2 linked regions of the Homo sapiens genome follow. The main gene of each other region encodes a partner of the protein of the gene in region 2 in a complex. Each region holds a gene or a part of one and is shown on either strand. Other genes may lie near its edges. A codon is read from its position in the direction of its gene.

The links. Proteins that work in one complex are often made in the same cells at the same time.
Region 1: the proteins of GNAI1 (region 2) and HCRTR2 are in contact, whole or in part, in a cryo-EM structure (PDB 7SQO), measured with the Homo sapiens proteins. Residues at the interface, in NP_002060.4 of Homo sapiens: Ala31, Arg32, Leu194, Phe336, Thr340, Asp341, Ile343, Ile344, Asn347, Leu348, Lys349, Asp350, Cys351, Gly352, Leu353, Phe354; in NP_001371201.1 of Homo sapiens: Thr89, Arg152 (codon at 2,924), Ala155 (codon at 2,915), Ile156 (codon at 2,912), Pro159 (codon at 2,903), Leu160 (codon at 2,900), Met161 (codon at 2,897), Phe162 (codon at 2,894), Lys249, Gln254, Lys301, Thr302, Met305, Leu306, Ser368, Lys370.

Annotation. Positions count from the first base shown.
Region 1 is NC_000006.12:55,254,454-55,258,110, reverse strand, and holds part of HCRTR2 (orexin receptor type 2), read right to left. Parts: intron 2,976-3,657; coding exon 2,732-2,975; intron 1-2,731. UniProt on the Homo sapiens protein: Nonselective, high-affinity receptor for both orexin-A and orexin-B neuropeptides. Triggers an increase in cytoplasmic Ca(2+) levels in response to orexin-A binding.
Region 2 is NC_000007.14:80,141,222-80,144,878, reverse strand, and holds part of GNAI1 (guanine nucleotide-binding protein G(i) subunit alpha-1), read right to left. Parts: intron 1-3,657. UniProt on the Homo sapiens protein: Guanine nucleotide-binding proteins (G proteins) function as transducers downstream of G protein-coupled receptors (GPCRs) in numerous signaling cascades.

The sequences.
Region 1 (3,657 bases), on a different chromosome or scaffold from region 2:
TTAAAAAGTTGTGACAATCACACATATACAAAGGTTTAACATTATAAGTCGAACATGGACTTATAAATAGTTTACATGAACAATGATTTTACATGCTATGTAGAAATCATCATAATAAATATCTAATAAGAAAGATAAAAATCTGCCTTGAATTATTTTTTCTTAAAAATATTCTTAGCAATTTCATTTAATATTTAAATGACTGTATAGCTTTTACTAAGTTGGATTTTGTAGCTAATCAATTCAGTCCAATAATACTTAATTTTAGTCTTTACAAGCATTTAATTATAGGCTATTATAAAATCACCTTCAAATAGTTTTCTTAAATGACTTCTGAAGGCTAAGTTTAGGTTTTTACATATTCAACAATTGTTTCCTTTTTTTAATGAAAATGTCCATGCTAGAGTTATGTAATAAAATATCAGAGTAGAAATGAGCTTTATGTATTTATATTTACCACTCAGAGGTAATTTAAAAATCATACGTCTATTTACATAATCATAATAACTGAACAGGAATCCATGACTTTGCAATCTTTTTGTTAATGGAGGTTACTGTTACTTGATTATTCAGGGAAACATTAAAAAAAGAAAAGCTTATAAAAGCAACCCATAAACATATAAGTGAAACTAATTGCCGGAATATTAGAGAAAATACTGCTGACACATATTGAAAAATATTTTTATATTTTATCTAATAGCAATCCCTATAAAACTTAAGGAATCCCAACTTACAAGTTGGAAGCTTTAGATTTAAATGTACCTATTTGCTTCATAATCTTGAAAAAATAATATAATCTTTCTAGGGTTAAATTTAGTCTCGAGTTTAATACAGGATTCTGAGAAAGACCTTTTTAGGCTTTCTAAATATAAACCAGTGTAAAAGGATCGTATAAGAGACATGTCACAGTCAGTCCCCAACCCATCTTGTTTCAAAATTCAATTATTTACACTATCTGCCCCTATGTTCCAGAAACTACAAGTGCTGATTCACTCTTTCTGCTTTGTAATGTAGTATCCATGATGTGGATTTTCTTGCTTTCTGGACATCCTTTTCCCTCTTCTCAGTCTGGAGAATTTTTGCTTATCTTTAATGTTCTGCTGGAATGTTAGCAGTTCCTCTGTAAACTTTTGTTCAAATGGCCAGAACTGAGTTTGTTCTCTCATTTGTGTTCTCAGCATTTTGTATATAAATATATTAAAATACTGATTACCCTATAAAAATTTGTTTATTGGCCTTTGAGCCTTATTATATAGAGTGTGCTCCCGTAAGCAGAGTCTGTTTCTCTCCAGGTGGGCACAATGCCTGACATATACTAAGTTCTCAAGGTGGTGTTTGAGCATTAAATGAATGGGACATAAGACACTTCATAAATATTCCTACCATTTTGGAAATTTCCATTGATTTTTTTTTTGTCTGCACTATTAATTTGGAAAATTGGAAAAAACTGAAAATGATACAGAGAAAAATACAGCAAAAAAAAGTTGGAATGTTAAAAAGGAAAAGTAAATCCCAATAAAAGACAGATATTTGATATTTGGGGTAATAGATAAAGCAAATTATAAAATTTTAGTTATTATAGGTCTTGCAACAATATATGAAATAATCCCAGCCTCTCTTAAATATTATCTTGCTGTAGATATATCCTGTAGTATATGCCTAATATATCAGTGATTGGCTTTTTTTCCTTTCGGTGTTCTAGTACAAACACCAAGGTAGGAAATAACAGAAATTCAAAGATTACAATATTTAAGAATATTATCCTTAATCAGTCCCTGGTGTGCACTGCTTGTTTTGATACATCTTTCTAATAAAAAACAATGTTAACATATGAATTCTCTAAATATCAGCCATTTTAGTATACTTACCTAGAAGAGGTCAGATTGGTTTTTTTTTAAATATATATTTCATATGATATATTGGAATCAGTGCATGCTATGCTGAAATGCAGGGTTATTTTATTTTCTGTCATTCTTTCCTGTGCCCAGATTTGTGCTAGCACCAGGTGTTGATAGCAGTATTCTCACTGTTACACAAAAACCTCAGACTGACTCTAAGAATTTCTAACCAAAGAAACATAAAGCCTTCAAACCTGATTGCTTAAATTTCACATCATACTTGTCAGATGGGAAACCAGATTGATTCATAATTAATATAATTCTTAAACTGGATAATAATTATGCGAGTAGCAATAATGTATTATGAATAGAGAAAACAAATTTGGATTATTTGACTTAGAGAACCACATGCTGACTCTGGCCATGTTCCCAGGACCATGTGATCCAGGACATGGTCTTAAAATGAAAAAATTCAGTTGTATTTGAAGCCCATTAGGGACCCTGACACTAGACAACACAGTGTTGAACCATCTTATAAATCGTGGATCATTCCAGAATACATAATCGGATTTGTATTCCATATTGCTTTTTGTTTAAAGAGTTTAAGAAAAACTAAAATAATCAAATCTGAATTGTAGAATAATCTCCTTTCATTTCCTATCCAAAAGATATGAAAATGAGAAAATAATAGATAACATTTCCAAAGGATTCAGATAGGTAGAGTTATTCTGTGAAATTGTTTTGAAATTCAAGTTGGTTTTCATGCTCTTGCAAAACTGTATTCACAAATGTCAATAAAATATATAAGCCCAGCTTTACAATGGCTATGCTAATCCAATTTTCAATTTGCTGCTGTAATATAAATGTCAGTTGATGGGCCATAAGGTACTTACCACCCCAGCGCTCATCACACACCGTAAAGAGGGTGGTTTTATTGGCTAAGCCTGGGAACACGGTGCTGCACTCCATGACGATGGCCTGAGGAATCATTATAATGCAGGAGACAATCCAGATGATGACAATGCTGTTACGGGCCCGCTTTGCTGTGCTCTTAAACATCAAAGGGTGACAGATTGCATACCACCGATCCAAGGCGATACAGCTCAGTGTGAGGACAGACACAGACACCGACACGGTCTAGAGAAAAGAAAGATCATAGTAATAGAGAAGCACCAGCTGTTAAAAGAATTACTCTTAATATATTTACTATATGAGAAAGGTAGTCACAACATATAAGCAAATTCAAAGCTGCCAAAAATAAACAATCCATGCAAGTGCTTTCTATTTAAAAAGAAATTATATCACAAAAATGAAATATTAGAAATATACTTTTAAATGTAAATTTATTGTTAAACATGAAAAGGTATGATGAAAACTTTGCAATCTTTTTTTACTCCAAATGTCTTAATTTATAATATGGCATTCTTTAAATAATTACTGTAATTATTTTGTCCTGTAATTTTTCCATTGATTGGAAGAAATCATACCCTCATATAGAAAAAAAAAAACACATATGTTTAGTCCAAACTGGAAAAGCCTCAATTATAAAGAATAATATGTCTTTCTTCTAAATTACCACATAGAAATTTGATTGAAATTATATTTAATTAACATTTTTAAATTATGGGTAGCTTATTTCATATTTTCAAATAATAAGGGCTATTTGTACATCAGTGCATTTTCAACATGTAGCACCCAAGGAAAGTTACGAGTCATATTAAAAGAGAATTTTGTATGCGAATCTCCTTATGACAGTTTGCTCACTGCTAGCCTAGTCAATGTGATTCCAAAAACTAGGTAAGTTCACCCAGTCAAAATT
Region 2 (3,657 bases):
CTCAGTTTGTGAAAACTTAAGTGAGCTAGTATACATGGATCAATTTCAAGCTATACCGAAATAAATGTAATTCTTGGAATTAGATTAACTTCGGAACCATATAAGAAGGCAGTTTAACTCCTACTACATTATATTGATTATAACTGTAAGTTTACTTACAAGTTCCATCCCTCTTAAATACCATGAAGAACAAAATTAGTAAGCCTTCAGCAACGGCTGTCAAATAAGATGTATGTGCCCAAACAAGAAAAATGAATAATATAGATCAGTTACTAGAAAAAATTCTGGATTGTACTTTAGTGAGGCAAGGGTAACAGGAGGAGTTTCATACAACTGAAGATGTAAGTCTTAAGGAACTCATTTTACAATTTATTAAAAGGCACAAATACTATCACAGATTCAACAATTCACTGTTTCTCTATTAAGGTTACCACCACTTTTAAAGACATTCTTCTCCTAAAAGTAAATCCGTTATAATCCTGGAGTTCTATCAGGAATCTCTTTGAGTCAACAGTGCAGGAAGTTTTAGAAAGGATTTTATATTTTGTGGAAAGTTGTCAAACTCCTCTGAGAAATGGCACCATCTTTTGAATAAACTTAACGTTTCATAATTTACACTAACAGCTTTATTTTCCAAAAAAAAAAAAAAGTTTGCAAAAAGCCACTGCACTAATTCTAAAAATGGATAATAAAATGAAGAGAAAATTACTGCTATAACATTTGTAAAATCTTCTGATTATGTAAAGTGCATTCTCTATAGAATTCTTAACACAGCACAGATATTTACCTGGTCTAGCCCCAGTAAGGAGGCTGTTAAAGAGAAATCCAAGTCCCTCAAGGAAGTTACGGTGGGATTAGAAACTAATGTTTAAAACTGAATTTATACTTCTTGAAGTCTTCACTATATATATACACACACACACATATATGCACACATATAGATACACACACGCGCGCACACACACACACACACATCCTTGCTAAGAAAAGCCAATAAAAAGAATTTAATGTCTATGACCACAAATGGATGAAACTGCAAGGGAGGGCTGATTCCACAGAGTCTCTGAAGTATTTATAATAATAGCCTATAATTATTAAGAATGTATGTACCATGTAGTATTCTAAGTACTTCAGATGCATTAGCTTACTTTGTCACTAGCCCTATGAAGTAGATATATTTATTATCCAGCATTTATAGAAGAAAAAACTGAAGCTTATAAAATTTGGTAACTTGCCCAAGGTCTCATGGGAAAACTTTTACCACCAGAGTTCTAAGTCAACTCACCTTTCCTCTCTGGAAAGCCTTTCTACAGAGCTAAATAAACCTTGGAGGGGAAAAAAATTCCTTAGACATGGAAAATGTTAGAAAACTAAATTCATAGATAGCAAAGTCTCTTCTACATTATAAGTTTCCATACAACACAAAGCTTACACCCAGTAAGGGTTAAATAGTAGGTTCAGAAATACATGAAAACAACTGACAGATTTATAACCAAAGTAATATCTGAGAGGCAAGCTACCTCCACCTCCACCCCCCAAGATCAACAATGAAGTCCCAATATTGACACTCACCTCCCCTACCTAGTATCTATTTTATTTTTTCTTCCCCATTTGACATTATGAGGACTTATCTTTATGTATATATTGTATTTCCCCAAGTAGACTGTAAATTCTCTTAAGGATCTGGTAAGGCTAATGCGTAATTTGACAGGAAAAGCATGGAACACATCTTACAAATGCTACTAGTGATCATCCTCACCACATAGGAACAAGCAAGACATAAAGAACAGTCTGCTGGTGAGCCTCTGAGCAGCCTGCTGGCTCCTGAAAGCTGAGGTTTACCAGAGTCACATCATCCTGTGTGAAATATATAGTTGTGAGTATATATTAAATGCCACATTGCAATAGTGTATGCATTTTAAGAAAGCAGCAAAATAACATGTGAAACAGCAAGGCAGCAATACTGTTAAAAACAAAGTTCCCAGAATATTCAAATATGAAAATCACATTTCACTCTACCACTTATTTACCAAGAATCATGATTTTGATCATGCAACAAGAATATGGTCCCCAAAATTAGTTTACTTTTTAGAAATGTGTTAGGAATAATGTAGTAGGTTTTCATTACTCTAAACCAGCAAGATATATATTGGGCTAAAATTCACTCAAAATACCCAAGGCACAAAGAATATGTACCAATTTTTCCCTTTAAAAGAAAACTAGTCAAAATTAATGTTCAACAATTTATCCATTAATTTAACCAACAATTATGAAACAGCTACTATGTGCCATCCCATCAGATGATAAGTCTGACAAGATTCATGCTCTGATGGGGCCAATGCCATAGAGAAAGGCAACAGACAATAAAAAATAAAAGTACAAGATGATTTCAATATGGTATTAGTAGGAAGGGAGACGAAGGAAGACTAATTTAGACTGGATGATCAGGAAAAATGTCAATAAAGAAGAGGCAAAGAAAAGCTTTATTCTTTCACATTACGACTTGAGTAACACCATGGGTTCAATATGACATGTAAGAAACTGGTGCTTTTAGTGTTACCATGATAGTCACATAAATTATGAGGGACTGGAGAATGTAAAATTACAATTATTTTGCACTTTCAAAAGTGATATATAAGATACTGATGAAGATAATGGGAAATGGGGTGCTGCTATAACAAACACCTAAAAATGCAGAAATGGGCAATGGGCAGAGGCTAAAAGAATTTTGAGAAGCATAATAGAAAAAGTCTAGGTGGTCTTGACATACTGTTAATAGAAATACGATGTTAATGTCTCTCCCAGTGTGGGCTCAGAACGAAGTGAGAAGCATGGTAGATGACACATTATCACCTTAGAAAATATGTGAATTATCATGAACATACTATTGCTAGACGCATGGAGCTTAAATTTGCTGCTGATGAGGACTTGGATGGGAAGAAAGGTGAAACATGTTATCAAAAACTAGAGGAAGGGGATCCTTGCTATATACAGGCAGAAAGCTTAGCTGAATTAAGTCCAGCAGTTACGTGGAAAGCAGACCTTGTAAGCTATGAACCTGGACATTAAGATGAAGAGATTTCCAAGCAAAGTATTAAAGATGTGGCCGGTTCTTTGTTTTTGTTTTTTCTTGCTGGTTACAGTAAAACGGGACAGGAAAAAGGTGAAGTAAAAGAATATGAAATGAAATAATGCTGTCAGACCACCATAATTCCAGAGGCAAGAAACAGGCTGATAAAAGTAATCAGCAGCATACAGGTGCTACACCCTTCATTAGAAAAGAAGGATGACTCCCAAGAGTGGAGAAGTTCAGTACCCACAGGGTGGAGTAAAGAGTCACAGAGAACTATCCCCAGTCCTTGAAACCTAAAGGAGTTTTGAAAGTGCTCAAAACTAGAGACTCCTTTTTTCTTTCCATTTAATGATAACCTATGCCTGACCCACCATATTCTGGGAGCAGATAACTTGTTTGCTAGTTTCACAGGTCCACAAACAGACAGGAATTTTGTCCCAGTATGGATTACACCCAGAATCTCACCTATTCCTGAGTTAGATCAAGAGCCCTGGTTGAGATTTTGCAGTCAGTTGTGGCTGTATTGGGTTGAGACTTTTGGAGATGTTGGGAGAGGGTGAATGCATTTTGCATGCAGGATGCAC